3 separate regions of the Homo sapiens genome follow, and all the other regions are reported to be linked to region 3. Evidence: microRNA targets listed by miRTarBase, many of them from high-throughput screens and not tested one by one. Region 3 holds a microRNA gene; each other region holds the end of a gene's coding sequence.

What was found. Region 3 holds the annotated microRNA hsa-miR-4704-3p (UCAGUCACAUAUCUAGUGUCUA, at 6,601-6,622, shown strand). A microRNA usually pairs through its seed, bases 2 to 8, with sites in the 3' UTR of a target mRNA and lowers its output. Matches are read on the target gene's strand: a 7mer-m8 pairs with bases 2 to 8, a 7mer-A1 pairs with bases 2 to 7 and ends in A, and an 8mer does both.
Region 1: the mRNA of FAM53C is a reported target of hsa-miR-4704-3p. Seed matches in the 3' UTR shown: 7mer-m8 at 2,972-2,978 and 7mer-m8 at 1,503-1,509.
Region 2: miRTarBase lists PPP6R3 as a target of hsa-miR-4704-3p. Seed matches in the 3' UTR shown: 7mer-A1 at 1,347-1,353.

Annotation. Positions count from the first base shown.
Region 1 is chr5:138,341,318-138,351,014 of GRCh38, reverse strand. FAM53C (family with sequence similarity 53 member C) reads right to left here. Exons shown (of 5, transcript NM_016605.3): 2 at 9,602-9,697; 3 at 9,149-9,206; 4 at 5,406-6,190; 5 at 1,286-4,313. The coding sequence starts at 9,679. The coding sequence ends at 4,056. Among named protein-coding and RNA genes, the nearest start is that of KDM3B, 6.5 kb to the left of the region's middle.
Region 2 is chr11:68,611,792-68,622,257 of GRCh38, forward strand. PPP6R3 (protein phosphatase 6 regulatory subunit 3) reads left to right here. Exons shown (of 24, transcript NM_001164161.2): 24 at 1,275-3,543. The coding sequence ends at 1,326. Among named protein-coding and RNA genes, the nearest start is that of GAL, 68 kb to the right of the region's middle.
Region 3 is chr13:66,211,696-66,222,161 of GRCh38, forward strand. MIR4704 (microRNA 4704) reads left to right here and starts at 6,555; the gene lies at 6,555-6,629.

The sequences.
Region 1 (9,697 bases), not on the chromosome of region 3:
GAACTTCCCAAAGTGTTGGGGACACAATATTGAATAAAACAAAACTCTTGCCCTCATGGAGTTTACGTTCTTTCCTATATTAACAAGACTTCAGGAATGAAAAATAAAATCACACTTGGCCTCACAGAAAATAGCAGAAAAATCCAACAAAAATAAACTCAAAAGAAAAAAAGGGGGAAACAAAGTCATTTTAGATGTTCAAACTTTACCCCTGCTCAAGCAGTAGGTGAAATGAAACATCAGTTTTAAAGAAAAAAAACCCTGTAATTCTAAGCTTCTTTAACCACATGCCACTGCCCACCACTTCCCCAAAGCCCTTCCTTTGTTTCCAGGGCAGGTGACAACCCTCACTTTTTCTAGGGTGTATGTGCACCCCTGCAAAGATTCCTGCTCCAGGTAGTCAAGTCAGTCCTGTCCTGCACACACTTCATTGGTATTCAATGATGAGTGCCACCAATTTGAAGCAGGAAACCAGGACATAAGCTAAGCAACTTGACTCTTCTTGCTGCCTGGCAAATTAGCACCACAACTGGTAAAGAAAGGCTAAGCCTTAGAGACAGAGGCTCCTGCCTGGATCTCTAAGCAACTACACTTCACCCACACACATTGGAAGAATGTCAACATAGAGAGAAGAAAGGGTGGAACAGAAAGGTCTAAAGAGTGAGCCACATAGCTTCTTTTGGCAAACCAACACTCCCAAAGGAAACATTAGGGAAAATACTGTCTTCTACAACAAAAGAGAAGCTTTGCAGCTAGGATTATTTTCCAAAAGCAGTATTTTTAGGATGGAAAAATTGCCTAGGTCTATGGAATCTGAATTCTGATGACTAAACCTCTATCTCTCCAGGATGTAACATGTGAAAACTTAAGAAAGATCCCTGGCTGTCTCCCACCCTGCCTTCTCCCTACTTCCCAAAGCCTACAAACCAATCTAGACAAGTTCCTGACTGTACCATAAACCATTTCTCAGGGAGCTGGAATGCATTCATACTTGACTTCAACTTGCTGGAAGTGAGAGTGACAGCAGGCAGGAGGAGACAAGTATAACTGCCAGGGAAAGAGAGACCAAACCAGACTGCCAAAAATAACCAAGGCCTTAGCAGAAGCCTGGGCCACAGTATAACATCCTGCCATGGCCGGCAAAGGGCCTAGGGTCCAAATACTGCCCCTTTTTGAAAGGTTGACCCACATCTTAGATGAAGGGGCTGGAACAGTTAGGTGGCCTTCTACCCTGCTTCTTCCTTGTCTTTGTGGGGAAGGGAAGAAGACACTGTAGTACACAAGGTTGCTTGGGAAAATGGATTATTCTAATAAAACTTTATTTTTTCAAACACAGCCACAGAGGCAGAACCTCATGTTTAACACACACAGACTTATGGATTTTTCTTTTAATATAAAACAAAGTTTACGAAAATTTTTTTCCACTTTTTGTATTTGTAATCCCATTAGCACAGGGACTTTGGCAGCAGGTGGGAGTGAAGGGCAGCTGAGCTGCCACTGGGCAGTCACTGGGCACAGGAGGAGAGCACCAGCCTGGGGAGTGGCTTCACTCACACACACAGGGATACTCACCTACTGGCCAACCACACTACACACACAGCACAGATGCAGACATTGACCCAGTGTCAGCCACATGCCCTGGAGGTGTGCTCCACTCTGGGTAAGCCCAATATGTGAAAATTCAAATAGTCAAAACAGCTAAAGTGGAGGGAGGTTGCTTGCTTTACAAAAAGAAGCAATCATAGGCTGCTTTTAAATGGTCAGCAGTCCAAATGCATTGAAAAATAGCATTTGGTTTACACAGAACTGTTGGAACAGATCTACTGTGTAAAGCAAAATGAACCAATTCTTGAAAAGTGTTCCAGGGCCACAGGTTCTTAGATTGGGAAGCAAGATGACAGTTCTGACTAGCTTAGTTTTCCAGACTGAAAGTAATGGAATTAAAATAATGATAACTGTAGACCTTCTCCCCTAAGGATGGTGCCCTGGGGCTTTGGGGAAACCAGGATGGAGGCAGAATCACTGCCTCACTTCTTCAGCTTAGGGCCTACAGAAACTCACTGGCATTGCCAGTAACCTGTTGGAAGCTGGCACAGCCAATCTACAGCAGAGAGCCCTGGGATGAGGATGCCCCAGGAGGAAAAGAAATTGGCACCAGGGAAATTATGGCCTGAAGAGGGAGAAGAGCCAGGGGAGGAATGAAACCATAGATGGGCAACTCCTGGGCTCACAGTTTCCCTGGATTCTCTAGAGGGCCTCTCTCAGGCCCCTAGAGACCTGGTAGCCTAGTGGTAACTAGCCAGGAGATAGGGAGGAGCCTCTGAGGGCCAGAGGCTTAAGAAGACATAGCCACCTCCTCTCTGGAGTGGAGACGAGGAGGCTGAAGCCTCACTGATGCTCCTGACATGCAGGAGATCCAGAAAATGTCAGGTTCAATTCCATGAGGAAGAAAACACAAAGACCTTGGTCTTCCTCCCTTACATGAGGAACTGGGTCCTAGGAAACCCTGGAAATTGAAGAGAAAAATGCCCTTCTTGCCATAAACAAGGGCAGGTCAAATTTGGTCATGCAGGGTCTAACCACAGCTGGATAAAACCTCACAAGCTATTGTGGTGGCAGCTTCAGTATGTGTTTCCACTGGTGCCAGCCCTACCAAGGTACTTAAACCCATCACTGTGGCCACTTGGACCAGCTGTCCTGGCTCAAGTTGCGGGTGAGAAACAAAAAAGTAAATTCAATCCAATGACAACCAAACTCCCAACTGCTTCTCACAGCCTTTGCTTTATACATCCTCAGCCAATCCCTCAGTGAGCCCCAACCTCCCTATGGTCTCTCAGGCCCAATTAGAGGCAAATAAACACTTCCTGGCAGGAGTGGAAGACAAGCAAACTATTAAATGCTAAACACCCCTTCTTCCCTCTCAAGCAGGTCAAAAAGGCTGGGCCTGGATCTTGTAAGAATTGGTTTCCTGCAGTCACCTTCCCAACAGCAGTGCTGGGGTGAGCTCACCCATGTCTGCTGGGGACTGAATGCCACTTCTGTTGCAGGTCTGCCTCAGTAGATGCTGGGGACCAATATAGGGCCTTCCTACCTAGTCTATGACTTAGAAGGGCAGAGGGTGAGGGGAAAAGGGTCCCATCAGCAGAGGAGAGAGAGAGAGAGCCCCTCAACCCTGCTTCAGTTGCCCATGTGCTGTGTGCAACTCTACTCAAGAGGGCAAAAGAGGCAGGTGGAATATAGCCTGGACAATCTGATGAGAAAAAAAGGCCAGCTCAGAAAAAATATGGTGACACCCCCCACCTGCATTCCCCAATATACTAGATCGAGCTAGTGGGGAGGGGGTGGGGCTGAAGAAAAGATCATTAGCTGAAGTCACAGCACTTAAAACACCCTGCTGTACCCCAAAATGAAATCCTTTGCAGAGTCGGTGATGCTATGGATTACAAGCCTGGTTCCAGAGCTATTTAGAAAAAAGGAAAACTTGGTGCCCTCCTCTTGACTCCTTGAGCAAACCCAACATCCTGTAAAAAACTCAAGATCCTGGGGGTATCATGATACTCTGCTGTTAAGGAGCAATTGCCTTCCTTCCCTAAGGCTACGCAAACACACCTTTCCACAAGTACACTCCCATGCACGCACACACTCTCACGCAGTTTCTCTGAGGAGGCTGACTCAACCCCCCACCCTGGCCAAATTCTAAGACACAAGTGCCCTTTGAAGCAAAGGGGCTAGTGAAATTCCCCGAGCTGGGGTCGGCAGACCCCTTCCTTCCCTGCCCATTGCTCTCTTGGTGGCAGGGATACTCACACTCAGGGCCGCCATAGGAAGGGTCTGCTCTGGGGCTGTCCCTCCCGCCACCAGCTCCGTTTATCTTGTCCCGGCCAGTCTCTTGGCATGGTCGAGCTTGCTGGAGCGAGAAGATTTCCAGCTGCCCTGAGTCGGAGCCCTCCACTCACCCCCATTCCCAGGCTCGGCCCCCAGCCTTGGGGACTCGACACTTGTTAGTAGCCATGAGAGAGTCAGTCTGTGTGGCCCCAGGAAGTAGCCTCTCAGTTTTAGTTTTCCTCAATCAAATTCAAGTCCAGGTCCCCAAAGTCCCGCTGGCACAGTGTCCGCTTGCTCAGCGCCTGCCGACCCCACCGCACAGCCCCCTCCTCCTCCTCTTCGCTTTCACTCAGCACCTGGGAGGAACCCCCAGTGGGGCTGCAGGAAGCAGAGAGGGGTGGGGGGCTACAGGCCATGAACCATGGTGGAGAGATGCTGCTGCCTTCCCGGGCTGTTTCTTGGAGACAAAGACCTCCTGAGTATGGTTTCTGTCAAACAAACAAAGAAGACAGTTACACCTGAAGGCAAGAATTCTTTAGGGTGAGGTTTGTAAACTTTTTTTTTTTGAGACGGAGTCTCACTCTGTCACCCTGGCTGGAGTGCAGTGGCGTGATCTTGGCTCACTGCAAGCTCTGCCTCCCGGGTTCACGCCATTCTCCTGCCTCAGCCTCCCCAGTAGCTGGGACTACAGGTGCCCGGCCCACGCCCGGCTAATTTTTTATATTTTTAGTAGAGACGAGGTTTCACCGTGTTAGCCAGGATGGTCTCAATCTCCTGACCTCATGATCCGCCTGCCTTGGCCTCCCAAAGTGCTGGGATTACAGGCGTTAGCCACCATGCCTGGCGTTTGTAAACTTTCTGACAAAATTTGGAGCCCATTGTTTCCATTGAATTGAAGAATAGAAGCTCCGTGAGGGCAGGAACATCATCTGCAGTGTTTCATTACTTTGTACTGCCAGTGCCTAGTCAGAGTCAGTAAATGTTTGCAGATGGGATGGACGACTGTATGAAAAAATTAATTAATTCTTAAAGAGGTTTGTAACCTAGTGGTCTAGAAAGAATAATATGAAAAAAGTGAGCAAAGTGCATACATACAATAATTGTACTCACACCAGGAAGTCAAAAAACATTTGTCTAACAGATGAATACACTGTAGCAGCCCATCTTGCTTCAGCCCTCACAGACCCACTTTGAAGCAGTGACAGGCAAGTGGCAAAAACAGCTTTGGGCACAAGGAGTAGGTACTGATGGAATTTTTTGCAGCTTGTGCATTCTTGGAAAGGAGGGAAAGTACCTCTTGCAGGACAATTTGGGATCTCTGTTGGAAGGTTTAACATGGGTCTCACCCCAGTTTCTCTAACTCCCAGGATTAAGGCATTTCACAGGATGGGGGGACTTTCAGTGCTAACACTGGGACAGTCCCAGGCAAACTGGGATGGTAGGTCACCCTAGCTAAGAGCTAAAGGAGGTGCTGTTGGTGGTGGGGGCGGCAGGGTAATGAAGCTAGGGGCTAGCTCAAAAGTGGAAACAGAACAGTCCCCACACTCCCATCTAAGCTCCCCTAGTCTTGCTGGTCCCACCTGATTCATCTTGTCAAAGTCCAACGAAGGCCGCAGACGCCGGGGGTCTTCCTCGTGGCGCCGCTTGACCCCAGTTTTGCGGGCATCCAGATCACAAGGCTGTGAGCGGCTTCGGGGAAGGTTGCGGAGACCTCGAGGTCGCCAGGGCAGCTCTGGGGAGGATGCGGGAGAGCTCCGGGCAGAGGGCAAGAAGCGGCTTGCCTGCGGGCCCAGACTGGGTGACAGGGAGAAGCGGCGCTGAGGTGGGCAAGGTGACAAGGACTCAGCATCACTCTCCCAGGAGCCACTTTGAGGGGAGGCGGCGCAGGGTCGAGAGGAATCTTGGGCCAGGGCCAGGCTGAAGAAAGGAGGGCTGTAGGGTCTGTGAGCTGGGGCACATTGAGAAGAGGCACTGGGAGCTTGGAGGAACCTGAGGCTGGAGACCCGCTTTGGGGGGCTCTGGTGAGGCACCTGCGGCCCACCCCCTCCACCACTGCCCCGGTGCTTTATGGGAGTCCACAGCTTGGAGGGGGCGGGCCGCCACACCGGCTGCCAGCGAGACAGGTCCACGGGCACTGAGAGTGAGCGGCAGTGCCTCTTGGATGGAGGGGCAGGGGGCACAGGAAGCTTCTCTGGATCTGGGGGCTCAGGTCTTAGGACTTGGGAGAAGGGCTGCTCCTTGGGGGAGTTTCCCCGACTGGGTGGTCTGAGGTGCAGGCTCAGGCCTGAGGGATGGTAGCTGAAGTTGAGGCTGTCCTGGAACTCAGCACAGGAACAGTGGGGCAGGCCCCTCCAGGAAGCACCTTCTGGAAGGCATTTATAATAAGAATAATATTAATGATAGCTTACATTTTTTAAGAACTTACCATTTGCCACATAATGTATGGAGCATTTTATGTGAAAATTTCCAAAAACCTTATGAGGTAGGTAGTATCGTTATCATTATCCCCATTTCACAGATAAGAGAAATTCAATAACTTTCCCAAAATCACATAGCACTCAAAAGACCAAAGGAGGATTCAAATCCAGGTCTGTCTGATGCGAAGGCTAGGTTTTTAAACCACTATGCTCTATTGCCTCCATTGTGACCAACTACCTGGAATCAAAAACATTTCATCTACTGCCTGCCACTCCCTCTCAAAGGTAAAAGAAGTCAAGAGAAACAAACACGTTTGTGAGTGTCCTGCTCATCTCTCCCTCGCCCCTCCCCCACGCTTGCCCTGGATGCTGAAAAGCAGGCCTATGCTCTTCTTTCTCGGCCTTTCCTCCTCTCATGTGTCAACAGCACCAAGTCAGGAGTTAGGACTGCCAAGAAGTAAGAGGTAATCAGGCAGGTAAGAGATCACTTTTATTCCTAGGGAGGGCAAACAGGGTGGGGAAGGCCTTTGACAGTGAAACCTGGGCTTGGGAAACCCTGACTTTGTGCTGCTCATCTTCGTTTCTGTCTGGCCACCCACATATTCCGATTCCCTTCCCCTAGGCCTTCTCTTAAATCCAAACAGATGGAGGGACCAAGAGAAGGAAGGGAAAATGGACTAAAAGAAACAATCCTCACTCACTGTATTCCAACCAAAATTGTGACTTTTGGGAGACGGCTCATTAAGGGACAAAGGGCCTAATCCAAACTCCTCTGGCTAGCTGGCTGGAATTCTGCAGGGGCTGGATATTTGGGGCAAACGACAAGTATACGAAGTCAGACTTGATGGTGGCAAAATTCATACTGAGTGTATTTGGTCTATAGTTCTTCCCTCTACTAACCACTATGAGGGCAGGGACCATGAGTTCCTGCTCTATACTTATGACACAATACCTGGCTTTCAGCAAGTCTTTAATAAACAGGAGGAAGAGACTGAATGAACATGTTTTTGCCAACTCACTTCCCTTGCTAGGTATCCCAGAAAAGAAAATGAGATGCAGAACTGCTGAGCAGCACGAGTTAGGGAGTTCTGATTGTCCACCAGTGATGCCTCCATCTAAATGTCCCTACGATCAGGGGCCCTTTAACTCAGTAATTAATAATCTACGAATTTATACCTCAGATATATTTTCACATGTGAAAAAATGACATATGTACAAGGTTATTCACTACAGTTTCTTTTTTCTTTCTTTTTTTTTTTTTTGAGATGGAATCTCGCTCTGTTGCCCAAGCTGGAGTGCAGTGGGTGCGATCTCGGCTCACTGCAACCTCCGCCTCCTGGATTCCAGGGATTCTCCTGCCTCAGCCTCCTGAGTAGCTGGGATTACAGGCGCCTGCCACCATGCCCAGCTAATTTTTGTATTTTTAATAGAGACGGGGTTTCACCATGCTGGCCAGGCTGGTCTCGAACTCCTGGCTTCATGCTATCTGCCCACCTCGGCCTCCCAAAGTGCTGGGATTACAGGCATGAGTCACCACGTCTGGCCCACTACAGTTTTATGTATCCAAACAAGATTAGAAATAACCTAAATGCACATCAATAGAAAACTCATTAAATAAGCCACTGTACATCTATGCAGTGTAATAATATGTAGCTATATATAACAAGGGAATGAATACTCAGCATTCTGATAGGGAAAGATCTCCTAGCTATATTAAAGTTTTTTTTGTTTTTTGTTTTTTTTTTTTTTGAGATGGAGTCTTGCTTTGTTGTGCAGGCTGGAGTGCAGTGGCATGATCTGGGCTCACCACAACCTCCACCTCCTGGGTTCAAGTGATTCTCCTGCCTTGCCCTCCCGAGTAGCTGGGATTACAGGTGTGTACCACCATGCCAGGCTAATTTTTGTATTTTTAGTAGAGACAGGGTTTCACTGTGTTGGCCAGGCTGGTCTCGAACTCCTGACCTCATGATCCGCCCACCTCGGCCTCCCAAAGTGCTAGGATTACAGGCATGAGCCACTGTGCCCAGCAATTTTTTTTTTTTTTTGAGACAGAGTTTTGCTCTTGTTGCCCAGGCTAGAGTGCAATGGCGCAATCTTGGCTCACCGCAACCTCTACCTCCTGGGTTCAAGTGATTCTCCTGCCTCAGCCTCCCGAGTAGCTGGGATTACAGGCATGCGCCACGACGCCTGGCTAATTTTATATTTTTAGTAGAGATGGGGTTTCTCCATGTTGGTCAGGCTGGTCTTGAACTCCCGACCTCAGGTGATCTGCCCACCTTGGCCTCCCAAAGTGCTGGGATTATAGGTGTGACCCACTAGGCCCGGTCCCATTTTTTTTTTTAAAGGTACAAAATAATATATAGTATGCAACCTTTTGTGTTAAAAACGTGGAAATAAAATAGATGCAGCTAACCACCATGGCACATGTACACCTATGTAACGAACCTGCACGTTCTGCACATGTATCCGAGAACTTAAAAAAGAAAGGAAATAAATATATACATTTGCTTCTTTTTATATAAAGAAATTCTAGTCACATATACTGTATAAGAAACTAATACTTTTAGGGAGGTGGTAGAAGCTGGGTAGATAGGGAACGGGAGAGTAAGAGAGACTTTTCTCAGCATAACCTTTTTGTTGTTATTTTTTAAATTTTGAACCATGTGAATGTATTACCTATTCAAAAAATTAGATTATACAAGTCCCCACAAAGCTAGAATAAGAGCAAACCAACCAGATAACTTTCATGCTAGAACATGAAAGACAACTGTCAATCTCAGAAGTTGACCCTGGCAAGAAGGTTCTAGAGGTAGGCTCGCTAGCCCTGGTCACTGGAAACCAATGATAGAAATGTGTGGAGAGAGGAATGGGTACACACACGTACACAAACACACACGATGCCTTACCAGACACAAGCTGGAAAGAGTTCCCACAGTTGGAGATGTCTGCATGATCAGGCAAAGGCTAAGAAAGAGAGAATATCCATCATGATTTGGATTCAGGACACACTGACAGATTTCTAGGAAGCCCTCTTCAGTTCTCCTCTGCGATTCATGAGCTACAGGGATGTTAGGGACATTAAGTGTTCTTCCTCTTGTCTTCCCAAAGTTAGTAAGTCAAACAATCCACATCTTCCAACATCTCAAACCCTTCTCCACCCAAGTTTTGCTGTCCCTTCTCTATCGGTGGAAAAATCCCTGCCCCCTTCCTTTTGGGCTGGGTTTTGAGCCATTAGTGGGCTCTTCCAGGTTAAGTACCATGATTCATACAGCACAGGACAAGAGTAAAGTAATAGCAACAATCAGCCTCAGAAAAAAGGGGGAGGGGGTCGTGGAGAAGCAGGAAGACTGGTCTTTTACCAGACTGATGCTGAAGCGTGTGCATTTCAGCTCATCCAGAGTCTGCTTCTGTAGCTGCTCAGTGATCAGGGTTATCATGATTCTCCCCAGGATTTG
Region 2 (10,466 bases), not on the chromosome of region 3:
TTGCACGTGTTCTAAAGTGACGTATGACAGCATGGGATATTGAAGCTCACCCGTCTTTCCTGTGTGGTTCCCGTCCCAGCCAGATACCACAGTTCCTTGGATTGGCAGGCGCGCTGTTTCCTGTCACACTTAAAGATCTGCATTGCCACATGATCTCACTTTTCACAGCTGTTTTATCAAGCATGTCCTTTGTGCTTCTGATGTGCTGAGCATGCTGCACACATTATGTACTTATTTCATATGTATACTAGTGAAGCCCTGTGGGGCGTGGGGAGGGTTCTTTTCCCATTTTACAGAGGAGAAAACAGAACTGAGAGGGGCTAAGAAATCTACTTATAAGATCACTCAGCTTGTTTAAGTGAAGGCAAGTTAGTTATATACCAGTTATGTCTAGTTCCAGAAGTCTCGATTCCTATGTCTCTCATACACGGAGCCACCATCAGATGTAAGTAAGTGAGCAGAGTGGATTGTGTGTGCAGAGCTGACTTTTTGGCTCACTGTATAACCAGCAGGTATAAGGCATGAGTAGCATTCTAGCTGTAAATTGTGAATGCTAGTGGAAAAGTGCTTGTGGGCATCCCAGTTACGGCCCTAAGCACCCTTTCCCAAGTCTGCTTGATACAATTTTGGTCAAGCCTTCCCGAATAGGTTATATATTCAGGTTGTAATTTTGGCAGGAAGGCAAAACCTGGACACTTTGTTATATACTGTCCCACCTGTTATTCCCTCCCAGTTTTGAGCCTAACATTTGCTTTGTGGGACATGTTCTTCAAGTGGACACCTTTTTTTTTTTTTCCAGTAGTTTATTTGCAAACCTCCTTTCCTTTCCTTTTTTCCCCCCTTTCCTAGTAGCAGAATCCTGTTTCCAAGTGAAATAGTATGTGGATTCCAATCTGTGGGTCACATAAAAGCTTTCTTGAAGGAGCGGTGAACACATAGCTCCTGAAGGCTCTGGAAGCCACAGTTTATACCCCACTGACCTAGTCACTCCCTGTGCTTCTTGGAGGCCGCGGTGGGGCGGTTCTCCCAGAGCATTTGCTCTGCTGCTGCCCTTGCTGAATGCCTGCTCACCCGGTGATGAAGCTTAGATGCACTCACTCAGATTTTTCTAGAGCTTTTGCTCCATTCATTTACATATCATTTTATTAAAAACTTACTAAGTTCAAAACAATGTTAAAATAAGTTGTCCCTGCCCTTGGGGAGCTCAGCTAAGTAGGTTTTGTTTTTCATATTTCTGCTGCAAGTGCCTCCGATGCCTGTCTGTTGCTCCTTAGGACTGGCCAACCAAGCGCACCAGGTGACACTTCAGTGAATGGCCCTGTATGACGGGTGACGTCTGCTGCTGCTGACTGAGGACTGCAGACCGCCACCACTCAGGGGCTCTGGAGGGGTCAGCTGGAGCCCACCAAGCTGTCACTGCTGCACTCACTCTGCAAGGGATCAGGACCAGCAACCTTTATATTCTAGATTCTAAGACATTGTACAGAGAAATTCAGAAGTGTAAAAATATTGCACATTGACAAATACCAAGAATTTTTGCGTATGTTTATATTGTATTGTTCTAAATAATGGGTAGCCTGTGAAATAAGATCTTGCCACCCATGTAATAATAGTAGTAATACTATAGTTAAAATGGCTGTAAGAATAGTTTTATAAAAGTGAATACACAGATCTATTGTATTTGAAACATAACTTTGACAATTATTAGTGTGACCAAAGTATTAGGCGGTTTTCATACATTTTTCACCTTGTACAAAATTATGAATTCATTTTTCCTCCAGGCCGACAAGGAGTTGTAGAATGAAAATGCCCTCTAAGTGTTATTTTGGTTGTTCTAACTTACAAAAGTGATTTTGAATAAGAAATATTTGGTGTTCTTTTTATAACCAGTTTTTGATTGGTAATTGTTTTCTGTATTGTTTAAAACGGATCAAAAATGTAAGTCTATTGGTAGAGATTAAGTAAAGTATTTATTGCTACATCATAGTTGATAAATTGATGTTATCGTAAAGCCATATGTTCTGTTCAAGTCTTGTTTGCTTGAAATGATTATTCCTACAAGTGAAACACTAGACTATTTGGAGTGTATATGGCTTGTGTTTTGGGATTTTTTTTTTTTTTTTTTGGCTTTTGTTTTTGTTTGTTTTTTTGTTTCATTTGGTAGTTCATCTGCCTTTTAACCCATTCACCAAAATTTACCTTGTTAACAAGCATCACCAATGAACATTTCAGAGCAATCTGCATATTTAACAGACCTAAAATAAATCCTATTAGGCAAGTCAGTTGAAAATGCTCGTGCTGCTAATGGAATTAGAGTGCGTTCATTTTACAGGCTAGTATTTTAAAAGTAGAAATCAAAATCTGGCACCGAAGCATGCTAATTGTTTACTGTACCTTGTGAGGTTTTCACTCATAAATTTAAACCAGTGTATTTTTTTAGAACTGGTTTGTGTATATATATAGTGATTATGGATACTAATTCAATGTAATTTATAATTTTCTATGTCAATACAAAAATACATCACAGCCTTCTCAAACAGCTCAAGCAATATATTGTATATTGCCATATCGTCTGGTGAAAGGGTTAAATTACTTCACCTCTTGCACTTTTAGATGCAAATCAGTTTTTCATTTCTGTAATAGAAAATTATTCACGTATTTTTACATCATTTGTTTTTCCTGACCAGTATTTAAAACCAAAAGGATATTCTGAAAAATGGCCAACAATTTTTTTAGAAGTAGCATCCCAAGCAGCGTGCCTAAACATTACATTGCATATGGAAATAAAAGAATCAAACGTCTAATGCCTTATTATTTCTGATTTCCTTTTTCATTTTAAGTGGTGTGGAGATTCCAGCACTCCCAGGACAGTGGAGTCAGCAGTAAGCCCTGGGACAGGTGGCAAGGGTGGGTCCCTTGACCTTTGCACGCCTCCTCAGGAACCCCCTTTCCCGGGTGAGCCCCTCTCTGAAGAGACTGTCCTTGGGCCTCCTCTGGAAGCAGCACCCCCAGAGGACAGGGCTCCTCCTGCTTGCCTCAGGGCTGCCTGACTTGAATGGCGTTGGACCTCGGGGATTACTGGTAGATAATATGCTCTGGTCTCGCCTGGTGGTGAGTTTTGCCAGCCATGGCCAGGGTTTGGCTCCACTGGTGGCACACGTGGCCTCCGTGGTATGGACCTGGTGGCTTCTCCATCCCACTGTGGCCTCTGTGGTATGGACCTGGTGGCTTCTCCATCCTACCCAAGGTAACAGTGTCTTGCTTCATCCCACTGACTGCTGGGAGAGAGCCTCTGGGACTTTTCTTTGGGGCATCATTTTGTTTTGTCTTTCGTAGCAGGGAAAGGATATGACAATGGGGAGGACAGTTCTTTTGGAGGTTGGAGGGGCCAAGCCAAGGACAGGAGCAAGTGTGCCCTCATTTTGTTTCTACTTTTAATTTCTGTGTGTTGGCCATACTGAATTATGAGACTAACAGATGTCTACAATACAATACCTGTATTCAAAATAACAAAAATAAAGCCTGATTCTTTGTTTCTAGAAATCTCTTGTACCTTGCTTGGATTTTTAATGGGTTGATGTGTCCTGCCATTAGGTCCCGTGTTACACTAGGTCCTGTGTGAGAAAGACTGCACTGCACTGTGTGAGAGAGTGGCCTCTGGGATCAGGGGCTCATCCTCCCCACTGCCATAGCCCAGGTGCCCAGAAGAGGTGGTGCCTGACACCGGCTCTCAGTCTTGGGACGGCTCCAAGGGTTCCTCTGGACCTCCAGCTTGTTACTTTTATGTGCAGCGTGTCCCACCTATGTTGTTTGGCTCCCAGCCCAACAAGTCACAGTTAGGTGCTCCATAATGATTCTTAAGATGTGATGCTTATGTAGCTCCTTATTTTGCATTTTCCCTTCACCTGTTTGCTTAAAAACATGTTCTCTAGTCATTACCTCCTAGCAGGTCCTCTGCACAGCCTTTTGCTTTCTGGGCACGCATGCATCCCTCCGTGCCTGGGCCCACAGGCATCTCACACAGCACTGAGTACACACCTCTGCATGCTGGGCCCGCAGGCAGCTCACTCTGAGCTGTCTGGGTACCCACCTCTACATGCGAGTCCATAGGCATCTCACTGGCAATCGTGTAACCAGGGCACAAGCTCTCCAGCCGGGTGGCTCATCACAGCCCAACTCAGCCACTCATGATGGTGTGACCTTAGGCAGGTCTTGGTGTCAGCTTTTTCTGTTGGGTGGGGAAACAATAGGAACAAGTTCAAAGACTTGAATAGCTTTTTACTTACGGTAAATGTTTAACAAACATTAGCTAACTTTTACTCACTTAACCCCATAATGTCACCTGCTAGCCTTTCTAAATTTCCACTTCAATCCCACCTATTATTTAAAACCTTTACCTTCAGAAAAGTTGAGCATCTTAATCAGATGGGTTTCACTGCCCTTCAGCTTCCAGGGTCAGCTGCATCCGTGTGCCAGGTCTGGCCACCACCTGTGTCTGTGAATAAAACTGGCTATCCGTATGGAAAGACATGAGCCTTTATTCCTACTGCACGTCATACACAAGAATTCATCCAAAATAGATTGCAGATCCAAACATGAGCGCTTAAACAGTGAAGTTTTTAGAAGAAAAAATTATCTAAAATGTGGGATGGGCGAAGGCTGCTTTGGATGCAGAGCACATACCGTAGAAGAAAGACATCGGGCTTCCATCAACGTGAAAATGTTCTGCTCTTGAAAATGGACAAGCAAGGAACGGAATGCCAGGCAAGAAATCACACTGTGTGTCCTGACAAAGGACTCAGACCTCGGATATAGGGGAGAAAACTGCAAACCAAAATTAAGATGAAAAGCCCAATTTAACAAATGAGCAAGAGACTTGAACACAGATATTCACGAAGAAGGGACAGATGTTCCCTGACTTAACGATCCATGCCGGCCACTTCCCCTCGCGATGGCACAGCTGGCTGGGACTGCTGCTCCCTGCCACCGCTCAGTACTGCAGGAGGGCACTGTGCTGCGCATCCATCACCAGCCCAGGAAAAGATCGGAATTCAGAGTGTGGCTTCTGCTGAGAGCTTAATGCTTCCGAAACGCCATCGTAAAGTCCAAAAACCTGAAATTGAACCGTCTTAAGTCAGGGACCTGTGTATACATGAGTGGCCAATAAGAACATGAAAAGTTGTTTAACATCATCACTTCCTGGGGAGGGCAAGTTAGAATCACAAAAAGGTCCCATTTTCCATCTATTAGTGTTCAAATGAAAAAGACATCACCAGATAGGAGAATGTGCAGCTGCTAGAACTCACCTATTACTGTCTAAAATAATACTTCCAGTTTAGGAAACTAGTGGGCAAATTCTTTTTTTGGTTTGGAGGTTTTAAAAAATTAGACATACTCCTGCAGACTCTCCTAGATACTCAGTGCAAATACATGTCCACAGGTGATTTGTACAAGGATATTTATTGTCACTTTATTCGTAATATGTCTAACAACAGGAGGGTGGATAAGCAGATTCTGGTGTAGTCATACGATGGACTTCTACTTAGTAACCAACGGGGGTGAACCGTGATGAATGCAGCCATGTGTATACGTCTCAAAAACGTTGAAGGCTGGACACAGTGGCTCACGCCTGTAATCCCAGCACTTTGGGAAGTCAAGGCAGGCAGATCACCTGAGGCCAGGAGTTGAAGACTAGCCTGGTCAACATGGCGAAAACCCGTCCCTACTAAAATTTTAACAAAAATTAGCCCAGAGTGGCGGTGCACACCTGTAATCCTAGCTACTCAGGAGGATGAGGCACGAGAATCACTTGAATCCGGGAGGTGGAGGTTGCCGTGAGCTGAGATCGTGCCACTGCACTCCAGCCTGGGTGACAAGAGTGAGAACCTGTCTCATAAATAAATAAATGCGTTAAGCAAAAGAAGTAAGATATGTAAGCATCTATACGAAGCTCTAAAACCGACCAAACGAATTGATGGGAGAAATTCGAATAGTGTTTTCTCCTGGCAGGGAAGAGAGAAGGATTGGCTGAAAAGAGCACAGGGACACCTTCTGGGGTGAGGGAAGTCTTCCGCAGCTTGTTGGTGATGGTGGTTATGTGAACGTATACATGTGTCCAAACTCATCAAAACCTACACTTAAGACCTATGCATTTGATTGTATGTGATTTGCACCTTAATCTTTTAGAACTAAGGAAAAGGAGAAGTTAAAAGTGCAGCATAGAAAGCATTGTGAGGGAGAACACCCCCCATGGCATGCACCGTGGCCCCGGGACTGCCTTTCCTACCCCGCCAAGGAGGAGAGACCGAGGAGCAGGGCATGCTCTGGGCTCCAGCCTGGATTTGCCCGCCCATGGAGAGGACACGTTCCGGATCGTCCTCTTCCACACAGTAGACTCTGTCCTGCCGAAGGGAGAAGTCTGCATCCCTGGGTTAGACACGTCTCATGGAGTCCTCTGCCCGTGACCAGGGGGGGACATTTGTCTAATCCAGGGATGAAGTCAGAGAACTCATCCAAACCATGCCCCTCAAGCAAGGTTTAGTTTTAAAAAGAAAAGGATGTTGAATCCATTTGTCCGTCGTGCCTTATTTCCCAGAGGGCACTTCAGGAGGGCTGAAGGGGGCATGACCACCTCGCCAGGCATTGTCACAGGAGGCGGTGGGAAGCAGTGGTTTGTATGGAGGGAGTGATGTGAAGATGGGAGAACAGGCCGTGCCGGCTGCTGCTTCCCTTCTCGGGGACAGCCACGCTCTGACCGCGGCTCCAGGGCTGCATCTAATGGTTCAAAGGCCCAGTCACGGGGTCCTGTTGGGAGGAGGTGCCCATGCCCTGGCCTCATGTTTCTCTGTGGGATCTTGGCACTAGGTGAGTGCCCTTGGCCTCTCCACACTCCACTCTAATGGGAGCTTAGTGACTTCACTGAGAGATTTTGGTGAGGATTTGCATTTTTGGTTCAGTCAAAAATGCTTTCTAGGCTGGGCAGGGTGGCTCACGCCTGTAATCCCAGTGCTTTGGGAGGCCAAGACGGGAGGATTGCTTGAGCCCAGGAGTTTGAGACCAGCCGGGGCAACACAGTGAGACCTCATCTCTGAAAAAGTAATAAAAATTCAAAAGACAAACTAAGAAGTTCCCCCCGCCCATTTGTCTTTCAAGTCCTAATTCTCACTTGTTTCTGAACCTTGGTGTCCTTTCCTAAACAAACCAAGAAATACATTGTTACACTAAATCTGTTTTTTCTCTTTAGAAGACAGGTGGTCAGATTGGGGTTGAAACTAGAACCCAGGAATATGCTGTTGATGTAATAATCATAAAAGTGACAGGCTGAAAATAAGTGGATAGAAAAATAGGGTACAAGCAGAAAATAAGAGTATTCATATCAGGCACAGCAGAGTTTAAAAGCACTGTGCAGGGGTAAGATGCTCTTCATCAAACTATAAATACCGCAGTGGAACAAAACAATTAGAAATGCAAGGAAAGGGTCTTGTTTCTAGCTGTAAGAGTAATTTTATCAGAACGCACATCCTGCCAATGATGAAAGTTGGGCTTTTTAAAAACCAGCTTTAAACTTTTTACAACTAGATTACTTGAGCCCAGGAGTCCAAGACCAGCCTGGGGAATGTGGCAAGACCCTGTCTCTGCCAAAACAATTTTTTTTTAATTAGCCAGGCGTGGTTGTGCGTACCTGTGGTCCCACCTACTCGGGAGGCTGAGGTGGGAGGATTGCTTGAGCCAGGGAGGTCAAGGCAGCAGTGAGCTGTGATCATGCCACTGCACTCCAGCCTGCGTGACAGAGCAAGACCCTGTCAAAAAAAAAAAAAAAAACACACACACAAACGAACTAGGAACAGAAGGAAACTACGTCAACGTAAAAGCCATACGTAAAAACCCACAGCAAACATTTTACTCATTAGTGAAAGACAAAGATTATCCTCTAAGAGCAAGAACAGGGCAGGGATGCCCTCTTTCGCCACTTCTATTCAGAGCACTAAAAGTTCTAGCCAGAGAAATTAAGAAGAAAAAGAAATACAGGGCATTCAATTTGGAAATGAAGAAGTAAAATTATCTCTGTTTGCAGATAATATGATTTGAAAATGTAGAAAGCCCTAAAGTGTCCACACACACACACACACACACACACACACACACACACAAACTATTAGAACTAATAAATGAATTCAGCAAAGTAGCAGGATACAAAGTCAACACACACAAATCAGCTGAGTGCGGTGGCTCACACCTCTAATCCCAGCACTTTGGGAAGCTGAGGAAGGAGGGTCACTTGAGCCTGGGAGGTTGAGGCTGCAGTCAGCTATGATCACATCCTGCACTCCAGCCTGGGCAATATTGTGAGACCCTGCTCAGAACACACATGCACACACATCAGTGGTGTTTCTATATGATACCAATGAAGAATCTAAAAAAGGAAATTATAAAAATAATCCGTTTTACAATAGCATAAAAAGAATAAAATACTTAGGAATTAACCAAAGAAGTGAAAGGTGTGTACAATAGAAACTACGAGACACGGCTGAAAGAAATTAAAGAAAACATTAAGATATGGAAACACATTCCCTGTATATGAATTGGAAGACATAACATTGCTAAAATGTTAATACTACACAAAGCATCTACAGATTCAATGTAATCCCTATCCAAATCCCAATGATATGTTCTTGCAGAAATAGAAAAATCTATTCTAAAATTAATAGAGAACCTCAAGGGACCGTAAATAGACAAACAATCTTGAAAAAGAACAAAGCTAGAGAACGCATACTTCCTTATTTCAAAATTTACTACAAAGCTACAGTAGTCAAAACATTATGGTACTGGCATAAAGAGAGACATATAAACCAGTGGAATAGAATAGAAGCCCAGGAATAAACCCTGGCATTTATGGTCAAATGATTTTTTTTTGAGACATATCCCTCTGTTGCCCAGGCTGGAGTGCAGTGCAGCTCACCGCAACCTCCACTCCCTGGGTTCAAGCGATTCTCCTGCCTCAGCCTTCTGAGTAGCTGGGATTACAGGTGTGCACCAGAACACCTGGCTAATTCTTTTTGTATTTTTAGTAGAGATGGGGTTTTGCCATGTTGGCCAGGCTGGTCTCGAACTCCTGACCTCAAGTGGCCACTTGCCTTGGCCTCCCAAAGTACTGGGATTACAGGCGTGAACCACCATGCCTGGCCTATGGTCAAATGATTTTTGACAAGGGTGCCAAGACCGTTCAGTGGGGAAAGGACAGTGTTTTCAACAAATGGTGCTGGGAAAACTGGATATCCACATGCAAAAGAACAGAATTTGACCCTTACGTAACACTATATACAAAAATCAAACTGGATCTAAGACCTAAAACAAATTCCTAGAAGAAAACATAGGGCAAGAGCTTCACAGCACTGGATGTGGCAGTGATTACTTGGATATGACACCAAAGGCACAGGCAACAAAGGAAAAAAATAGACAAATTGGACTTCATGAAAAATTTGAAATGTGGTTCATCAAAAGATACTGTCAATAAGCCAGGTGCAGTGGCCCATGCCTGTAATCCCAGCACTTGGGGAGGCCAAAGTGGGAAGATCCCTTGAGTCCAGGAAATGGAGACAAGCCTAGGCAACATAGGGAGACCCCATCTCTACAAATAATAATTAAAAAAAAATACTGTCAACAGAGTAAGAAGGCAATTCACAGAACAGAAAATATTTACAAATCACGTCTGATAAGTGATTAATATCCAGAATATTTAGAACTCCTAAAACTCAAGAACAAAGAAACAACGTGATTCAAAAATGGGCAAAGGACGTGAATAGACATTTCTCTGAAGAAGATATACAAAGGACAAACACATGTAAAGGTGCTCATCACTAATCATTAGAGAAATGCAAATCCAAACTACCACCTCACATCCGTTAGGATGGCTACTGTAACACATGCACACTCACACAAATAAATGTTGGCAAGGATGTGGAGAAATCAGAACCCTTGTGTGCTTTGGGAATGTAGAACGGTATAGTTGCTGTGGAAAACAGTATGGAGGTTCTTCAAAAAGTTAAAAATAGAATTTCCATATAATGCAACAATTTCACTTCTGGGTATATATATGAAATAATTAAAAGCGGGGTCTTGAAGAGATATTTGGACACTCACGTTCATGCCAGCATTATCCTCAATACCTGCAAAGTGGAGACAACTCAAGTATCCACTGACAGATGAATGACTAAGCAAAATGCTGTGTATACAAAAAGTGGAATATTATTCAGCCTTAAAAAAGAAGGAAATGGTACAACATGCTACAACATGGATGAAACTTGAGGACATTAGGCTCAGTGAAATAAGCCAGTGACAGAAAGGCAAATACCACAGAATTCCATTTATTTGAGGTGCCTAGAGTTGTCAAATCTATAGAGACAGACAATAGAGGGGTGGGTGCCAGGGGATGAGGAGTTAGTGTTTAATGCTTAATGGATATAGAG
Region 3 (10,466 bases):
TTCCAGTGTGGTCAGGTTATTGGTGAGGCCTAGATTCTTGGTTATATCTTCTCACGGCATTTCCTTGCTATGTGCACACAGAAAAACAAATCTCCTGTCTCTTCTTCTTTTAATAACTGGTTTATACTCATCATAAGGGCTTCACCATCATAACCTCATCAAATCTAATCACCTCCCAAAAGCCCCACTTCCAAATACCATCACATTGGGCATTAGAAAGTTAACATATAAGGCTTGGGGTGGGGGAGCAAAACAAACATTTGGTCCATAGCACCAGGTGAGAATTAAAGCTATCCATGAGAGAGTGGGAAGGGATGATGAGTTGGAGAGAGATTTGAAAGCTATTAAGAAGTAGAACTAGAAAACAGTTAGGGGGAGAGGTTCAAGATGGCTGACTAAAAACAGCTGTGGTCTGTCTCTTCCACAGAGAAGAACCAAAATATTTAGTAGATATTCACACTTTGAATAGATCATCTGAGAGAGAACACTGGGATTCAACAGAGAGGCAATAAAAAATACAAAGTTTGAAGGAGGGGGAAGCAGGGTTGCTCAGTCAGGGTTGCTGGGGCCTGGAACTGCTCCCTAGCCCAGGGAAGGGATAAATGAAAGACTTTGAATAGCTCATCTGAGAGAGAACACTGGGATTCAACAGAGAGGCAATAAAAAATACAAAGCGTGAAGGAGGGGGAAGCAGGGTTGCTCAGTCAGGATTGCTGGGGCCTGGAGCTGCTCCCTAGCCCAGGGAAGGGATAAGTGAAAGACCTCCAGGGCTCCACATTTCTGCCACAGACCTTTACAATCCAGCTACAAGAGAGCCCCTCAACCCTCACAGGCCTCTACTTGGCATAGGAAGCTGCCTGGAGATCACAGAGAGACACTGCTCTAACTCATGTAAAGTCCGACTGGCTTCCTAGCACTGGACAACTGCAGCATGGCACCATTCTGGGTGCCTGTCTACTTCTATTCAACTTAGTACTGGAAGTCCCAGCTAGAGCAATCAGGCAAAAGAAGTAAAAGGTATCCAAATTTGAAAAGAGGAAGTGAAGTTAGCTCTGTTTGCTGAAGATATGATTTTATAACTAGAAAACCATAAGGTTCTCTACAAAAGACCTCTAGATTTGGTAAATGACTTCAGTAAAGTTTCAGGATACAAAATCAACATACAAAAATCAGTACCATTTTTATATATCAATAAGAGTCAAGCTGAGAACCAAATAAAGAATTCAATCCCATTTACCATAGCTATGAAAAAATTAAAAACTAGGAATGCAATTAAACAAGAAGGTAACAGATCTCTACAAGAACTACAAAATACTGCTGAAAGAAATTGTAGATGACATACACAAATGAAAAAACATCCCATGCTCATGGATTAGAAGAATCAATATTGTTAAAATGACCATACTGCCCAAAGCAATCTACAGATTCAATGTAATTCCTATCTGAGTATTGACATTATATTCACAAAATTCGGAAAAAAAAATCCTAAAATTCATAGGAAACAAAAACAGCCCAAACAGCCAAAGCAAAATCTTAACCAAAAGAACAAAGCTGGAGGTATCATATACCAGACTTCAAGTTATACTATGAGACTACAGCAACCAAAACAGTGTGGTACTCATATCAAAACAGACACAGATCAATGGAACAGAATAGAGATTCCAGAAATAAAGCTACACACCTACCACCAACTGATCTTTGACAAAGTTGACAAAAATATACACTGAGGAACAGAGATCCAATTAATAAATGGTCCTGGGGAAATTGGATAGCCATATGTAGAAGAATGAAACCTGTTACCATATACAAAAATTAACTCAAGATGTATTAAAGACTTAAACATAAAACCTGACATTATAAAACAGATTAGAAGAATACCTAGGAAAAACTCTTCTGGACATTGGTCTAGGCAAAAAATTTATGACTAAGTTCTCAAACGCAACAAAAACAAAAATAGACAAATGAGACTTAATTAAACTAAAAACCTTCTGCACAGCAAAAATGTAATCATCAGAGTAAACAGAAAATCTGCATAAAGGGAGAAAATACTTGCAAACTATACATCCATCACAGGGCTAATATCTAGAATCTAGAAGGAACTCAAACACCTCAACAAGAAAAAAAATTACCCCATTAAACAGTGGGCAGAGGATATGAACATTTTTTTCTCAAAAGAAGACATACAAGCAGCCAACAAACATGAAAACAGGCTCAACATCACTAATCATCAGAGAAATGCAAATTAAAATCACAGTGCGATATCCTCTTACAGCAGTCAGAATGGCTATTATTAAAAAGTCAAAAAACAACGGATGTTGGTGAGGATGCAAAGAAAAGGGAATGCCTATACACAGTTGTTGGGAATGTAAATTAGTACACCCTCTATTGAAAATAGTATGGATATTTCTCAAATAATTAAAAATAGAGCTACCATTTGATCCAGCAATCCTACTATTGAGTTTATACACAAAGGAAAATAAAGTATCATATCAAAAAGACAACTGTATTCATGTATTTATAGCATCACTATTTACAATAGCAAAATTATAGAATCGACTTAAATGTCCATCAGTGGATAATTGAATAAAGAGAATGTTATACACACACGTACATACACACATACTCACACAAAGATATATATATATATATATATATATGCAATATACACTGTACATATGGATATAGTTCGTGGAAAAATAAACATTGGAGTCTTCAAAAGGTGGGAGTGTGGGAGGTGGGTGTGGTATGTGAAATTACCTATTGGGTGCAATGCACACTGTTAGGGTGATAGTTATGCTAAAAGCCAAGACTTCACTACTATATCTATGGAACAAAAATGCACTATACTCCCTAAATCCATAAAAATTTTAAAAAATTAGAACCTATACAGCCTGATGCCCTAATGTAGGAAGTGAAAAAGGAAAATGAAAGATGACTTCCAGGTGTGTGCAGGTGCTATTGATTAACAAGAAATACTGGAGAAAATGAGTAATTATGAGAGAACACATTGAACTCAGATTGAGAACTTTTTTTATTTTAGATGGCTGTTAAGCTTTGGAGCTACATCTAAACTGAAATAAAAATTTGTAATAACAAGCAAATTATTCTACACTTCTTGGTTAACATTCCCTTTAATATCCAAAGAAAGTTGCTAGAGGCCCATTCCATGTAATTATAAAAGTCAAAGAATTTCATAAATGTTGTTAGGCTTCTAAAGAAGTTACTCTCATGTTTTTCTACCAAATTTTTGTTTCAAATACATTATTGATTTGCACTTGTTTTACTTTCTATAGTGGCTGCCCTTCCTCTGTCACTTGGCCACTTCTGAATGCTTTGACCTTTCTTCCCGTTTCCCAAAGCTCCACCAACAAGGTTTGTGGTACAAGTTGACTATCTCTTATGCAAAAACTTGGGACCAGAAGTGTTTTAGATTTAAGATTTTCTCAGATTTTGGAATATTTGCATTACTATTACTGGTTAAGTAGCTCTTTTTTGTTTTTTGTTTTTTAGATGGAGTCTTGCTGTCTTGCCCAGGCTGGAGTTCAGTGGCACAGTCTCAGCTCAGTACAACCTCTGCCTCCTGGGTTCAAGTGAGTCTCCTGCCTCAGCCTCCCGAGTAGCTGGGATTACAGGCATGCATCACCATGCCTAGCTAATTTTTTCTACTTTTAGTAAAAATGGAATTTCGCCATGTTGGCCAGGCTGGTCTCAAACTCCTAACCTCAAGGGATTCACCTGCCTCGACCTCCCAAAATGCTGGAATTACAGGCATGAGCCACCCTGCTGGGCCATACATCCCAAATTTGAAAGACGATTTTCTTTAAGCATCAGGTTGGTCCTCAAAATGTTTCAGATTTTGGAGCATTCCAGATTTCAGATTACCAAATTTGGGATACTCTGCTTTAATACGAACTTTTCACTGCTATGTTTGATAAATAACAACAATCACAAAACAACATAAAAAAGAAATCACTTAAATATTCAGTATGACTGTTAAAAATTTTCTTAGCTACCTACACCACAGGGACCCTCTTCATGGCTGGATTTCTTTTTCTTTTCTTTTCTTTTCTTTTCTTTTCTTTTCTTTTCTTTTCTTTTCTTTTCTTTTTTCTCTTCTCTTCTCTTCTCTTCTCTTCTCTTCTCTTCTCTCTTCTTTTTAGGCCAGATATTGTTCTATCACTCAGACGAGTGCAATGGCATCATCAGAGCTCACTGCAGCATAGACCTCCTGTGCTCAAATGATCCTTCCACCTCATCCAGCCAAGCAGCTGGAACTACAGGTATGTACCATCAAGTCTTGCTATATTGCTGGGATTGAACTCCTGGCCTCAAGCAATTCTCCCAGCTCAGTCTCTCAAAGGGCTGAGATGATGAGCATATGGCACCACAACCAGCCAATATTTCTCGTTAGGTCTCAAGCAGTCATTGAATATCTGCATCCATTCTGCTTCTCTAAAAACTTCTTTACACATCCCTTTTTGATTTTACTATTTGACATCTCTAAAATCTCTTTCTTTTTAAGAGCCAAATCAATAAATGAAGAGACTAATTTCACTGTCAATGCCTTGTCGTTCTTCACTTAGGAGAAATAGGGTAAAAGCAAAACCTCATTACACTACTTTTCTCAATCAAAAACTTTATCAACTTCAGGTTTCCATTCTTACTAATACCAAGAATCAAGAAAACATTCATTTGTTCTTAACTTAACTAGCTCAAATTCTCAGGAAGATGTGTTGGCTACCAACTTGGATTTGTCTTGATAGTAGAATGTGTGGTTCAAGTTAGAGAGTACACGAGAAAATCCAGGGTCAACTGGTTATTTAAAAAATTCTCACTAAAGAGTTTAGTGTCAGAAGAAATGATTTATCAGACTCTGGAACACAGAAAGAAGTACCTAAGAAGAAAAACACCCAACCTCACTAATATGATTTTCATTCTGTGCACAAATAGGTTATTGCTTTGAAACAGGTCAGAGTCTTGAGCTCCAAACAAAGTGGAGCTGTGACTGTGAAGAGTGTGTGTTGATGGGTGCAGAGGTAATGAGATTGCAAACTCAGAAGAAAAGCAAAAGAAAAACAAAAATGAAGAAATCTTGGACTGATGCCTATTTTTTTCTTTCTGTAACTGCGGCCCTTTTTGGAGGAGTTCTAACGATGGGTTAAACCACAAGGAGAAAATTAAACTTCTCTTAAATGTAGTTAAAATCCCTAGAGAGACATGAGTTTGTCACGACTGCCTGAGAAGATATTGGCTGGGATTAAATATTGAATGTGTCTGCCAACAATGACTGCCTGACGTGACACACGAGAGTTTCTCAGTGAGGAAAAAAAAGACCATGTAAGAGTACATGGATTTTATATTTTTCTGTGACTTAGATGTTGGTACCATTTATTAGACGAAAAGAAAAGTGCTGGAGCAGTTGGGGATTTTAAGAAACTACAATTATTGAAATAAGAGCTAAGTGTGATAGGAGGTAAAACCAACTGGGGATATGTAAGAGGTTTGCTGATAAATGTTTAGGGCAGTGGGGAAATAGGATTCCATAGATCCTTTACTGCCAGCAACCTGGTTACATGCTTTTTCTTGATCATAGATAAATAACTTAACTGTAGAAGGTAAGAAGACAAATGGAAGGAGTTAACAGATATTTGAAGATATGCAGATGGTGGGAGAAAGTTCAATGGTAATTGAGAATTGGTTCGCTGACAAGAGGGTTTTCCATAAGAAATAGTCTCTCTATTGGTTTAGAAAAAGTGTAGGACATTAGTAATAAGCTTTTGAATCTCCAAATTATGCCCAATAAATATTCGAATTAGAGTTGCTTCCAGACAGAGATGCCATTCATTTGGGAAGTTTCCCACCCCCCTTCAAATTTCTGAATGGGACAATAGAGGTAGAACCCAGACAACTGGGACATCTTCATAAAATATTCTTGAACATTCATGAGTTGAGTTTAGTGCTATTTGGAAGGAAACTGGTAAGCCTGAGAAAGGCACTAAATTGATAATGAAACACTAAAAAATAGCTTATAATTTGGTGGCATTAATAATTTCAGGTACTCTTTTATGTTTATCTACATTATACCATTTAATAGTCAGAATATACCTATGAAGTAGGTACTATTATTATTATCATTCTACAGATAAGGCAGATAAGGAGATTGAGACACAGAGATATTAAGACTCATACTTAAAGTCACACAAGCAAACGTTAGAACCTGGACTTCAGAGATCTGGCCAGGATCCTGTTCAGTACTTTCGATGTTACTCTAATTCTTCTCTAATTTGGGTTTGCTTCATGAATGTTTCTATATGCTGACATCTTTAAACTTCTGTTTTCTTATCTTTAAAGTTGGAAAAATATTTTATATTTTTTCTGATTATCTCTTGCTCCATAGTAAATTACCCTAAAACAGTAGCTTAAAACAATACCTTTAATTGATTTCATTCACACATTTTTTTCTGCCAAGCCTCGGGCAGCAGTCTTTCTCGAGTCTTTTCTATGGTTGTAGTCAGTTGGTGGCTGGGACTGGAGTCATCTTAAGGATGAATCTTCTTATCCTAGACACTAGGCATGTGAGTGATTGTCTTCCTCACTCAATCAGTCACATATCTAGTGTCTAGAATGAGAAGACTCAAACATCTGGGGGCTAGAACACCTCTTGTCTCTTGATCATCTCTCTGTGTGATCTCACCATGTGTATATGTGATCTCCAGCTGGCCTCTCTAACACATAGTAACTTCAATGAAACCAGACTTCTTATATTGTAGCTTAGGGTTTCAAAACCCAAGACAAAAAGAGCCAGGTAGAAACTGTATTGACTCAAATAACCTAACCTGAAAAGTCCTGTAGTGTCACTAAATTGTACTCTATTCCTTAGACAATTCACTAAGGTCAGTCCATATTCAAGAGGAGGGGAGTTAGACTAACATCTTGAGTGTGGTAGGCTAAATAATGCCTCCCACCCCCCACAAAAGATGCCACTTTCTAATCTCAGAGATCTATGCTATGCTTTACATGGCAAAGGAAACTTTGCAGATATGATTAAGTTAAGGATCTTGAGATGGAGAGATTATCCTGGATAATCCAGGCAGGCTTAATGTAATCACAAAAGGTTCTAATAAGAGAGAGCAGGAGAGTCAGAGTCAGAGAAGGAGATGAGATGACAAAAGCTGAGGTCAGAGTGAGGCCAAGCCCAGGCAAGGCAGCCTCTAGAAGCTGGAAAAGGCAAGGAAACAGATTCTCAACTCAAGCCTCTGGAAGGCTGGAGCCCTTATTTGATTTTTGATCCATTTTGGACTTCTAAATTCAGGAAATGTGAGATATTAAATTTGTGTTGCTTTAAGCCATTTACTTGGTGGTCATTTATCACAGCATCAATAGAAAACAAATACAAGAAGTATCAACTAATTTGTGGGTAGATTTTAAGACTATCACATCTATCATCCTCTTTGATTGGTTGTTCACTAAAAACCCTGTATTATGTGTCTTTCATGTGCTAGCATTGGGTTATATCCCTAAGGATTTAAAGATAAATTAAACATGATTCTTTTCCCCATTATGCTCATAGACAGTATTTATGGAAGGACTTTGTGCAACTCTAAAGGGTAATATAAATGTAATATATTGTGAGTCACTTCCAAAGTTTAATATGCAACCCAACCATTCCTTAATTTACTAAATCGTAAATCAGAATCAATATTTCAACAGATTGGAATTATGCATATATTATGAGTAAATTGCAAACAAATACAGAAGATAATTTGAAAATTAAATGTCAACAGGATTTGCAATAGACATTTACCATGTCTCAAAGTAAGAAAACCTGTTAGAATAAGTATACTGTGGGCAATCTCAGTGTTACAAGGCTGCTAATGAGCCTCTAGTACACTAAGAGACAGCCCCTAGGGATGAAAGGGGAGGATGGCTTATTCTTTCACTGAACTCTTAACTGAGGCAGCTAACAAGGTGCCCAACTGTGATTTAGACACATATCCAGTAGAAACTGGAGATAGAGTGTTAATTTAGTTTGTAAGGGTCACTGAACTAATTCCATTAGGTGACAACTTATGGTCACTACTGATAGGAACAAGAATACAAACCCGAAGCCAAAAAAGAGGGAGAAGAATTTCTTGAACAATCTCACTTACCAGGAAAAGCAATGAGAAAAGAAGCAGTCACTCAACTGAGATGCCTATTTTTGTTATGATATTTAGGTCCTGGAACACCTTTCCACACATGACAGTCACAAACAAAAATATGTAGTGTGACTAGAATATATAAACAAGGTCATGAAAATAAAGTTGATATCCACTAAGCCTTTTTTTAGAGAGCTACATCCACTTCAATCCTTGAAGAAAGTTGTCTGTTCAAAGGATAACAACTCGCAGGGTTAGATGTTAAGAAAGGGGAGTTATCAAGGAAGCTTACAGAAGGGATATTCAGTGGTCTGTCTTGGGTACTGGTGGGCTCTCTTTCCATAGCACAGCTGCCGGCAGCTGGCCAGCACCTCAGGCAGGCAGCTGGTAGGGGAAGAGTGGCCTCTGCCAGCTGGCACTAAAAAATTAAAATTAAAATTAAGGGAAAAAAAAACCCACCCTGAGGCACAGATGCATAACAATCAAGCATTCAGTTTCTGGTGTTCTCCCTTATTCTTCAGTCCTTAGGGAAGCCCAGCAGTGAGGTAGCTCCTCTCTCCCCAACCCAAGGTCCCCAGGCTGCTTTTCTCTGGTTTAGATTCCCTTTTTGGAGGTTTCTCTGTGTTCATGCATCCAAAACACAGTTCTTGAATCATAGCATGTGCCAAGCAATGTGCTAAGGGCTGAGGATGGAAATATAGAAATGAATTACATTTCCTTACTTCCATCAAGGTGCAAATTAAAAGGGCTATAGCTGATTTTTAAATGCCCATAAATAACGACAGAAAGTTGGATGACCATAGTGCTTACGAAACATAGAAGAGAGCCCACAGTGGATGAAGCAAGACAAGTATCACATCAAAAAAGAATAAGAATTAAGGCTTTCTCAGCTGAACAAATGGGAATAGCCTCTTTAAAAGGAATGAACATGAGGAAATAATGGAGGCATAAAATGGAAATTGAATTTTAAAATGTTACTGTACTGTTAGAGTACAGTCTGAGCTGCTACAACAAAAAGACCAAAAACTATAGAAGCTTTGAAATGTCATATATCTCTCTTTGATGGTATGTTTCAGCCAGATATGGCTCATAGGACAGCCCTGTCATCCTCAGTATGCAGTTTCTAGCTTCTGGATTACAGAAGTTGCTTGAGCTCTTGCAATCATTCCTATATCTCAGTTGGGGAGGAAAGGGCAAAATCCCCTCTTAAAAGAGCTACATAAAAGTATTATCTCCACTCACATTATCTCCACTCACAGAGAGCTTCAAATGAAGCTGGGGAATGCAGTAATTTGCCGAGTAGTCTTGTGCCAATCTAAAACTTAGGAATTCAATTAAAAACCAAAAGGGATAATTAACATTGGTAGAAAGCCACCCTCAGTTAGGAATAAAAAGTAAATCTATGTAAACATAGTTCTCATTCTTCGTGCATAATGAGTTTTATAATTTTCTCTGTAAATTATTTCATTCAAGATTTACATTCCCTGGGCTATTACCAGGACTGAAATATGAATCATTTAATGAACTATATATATCAGAGATAAGTTTCGAACAAGACATTGTGGGAAGTATTGTGGTGATAAAAAAATATGCTTAGGTGGACTCTAATAAAAATGGAATTTTAAAATGACAAAATATTATCATGGAAAATGAAGAGATGAATACACATTATTAGAGCCAGTAGTGTTGTAAGTTGGTCATCAACCTTCTTGACTGATTCATGGTACTCACTATAAAATAGACCAAATAGTCATAAAACTTTATTCTGTCAAGTCAAGAAACCGCAACTAAAAATAATTTTGTTCAACCTCCATTTTATCCTATCTCTCAATCTAGCCATCAGATTTTGATCTATGTAAGCCTCAAGGTAATACATTATTGCTCCTAGAGTCACGGTATATTCCATATAGTCACATTTCATGCATAATGAAGATGGCAGTGAACTACAAAGGTTTTTATCAACTCAAACAGGAATACTAATGTTGTCTAAGGGCAATTTATGGTATGTATTTTAAAAGAGTAAAAAAAAAAAAGTAGTTTTTAGGTCAATTCATATGTAGGGAAAAATTATATGACTTGGAGACATTTTGAAAAGACAAAATCTTTACCTTAATGGATTTTAAGATTCCTCTCTATTTCATAAAATTTATTTTTCTTCAATATACATATATATGAAAGAACGTATTGACAATTTAAAACTCACAAAACAAAGGTTTTAGTATAGATATTTTCTTTTTAAGTATTTGATTGCCTATTTTATGCAAGGCATTTTGCTAGATATTAGAATACAATATTAGATAAGTCATTTATCTTAATTTGGATAATTTC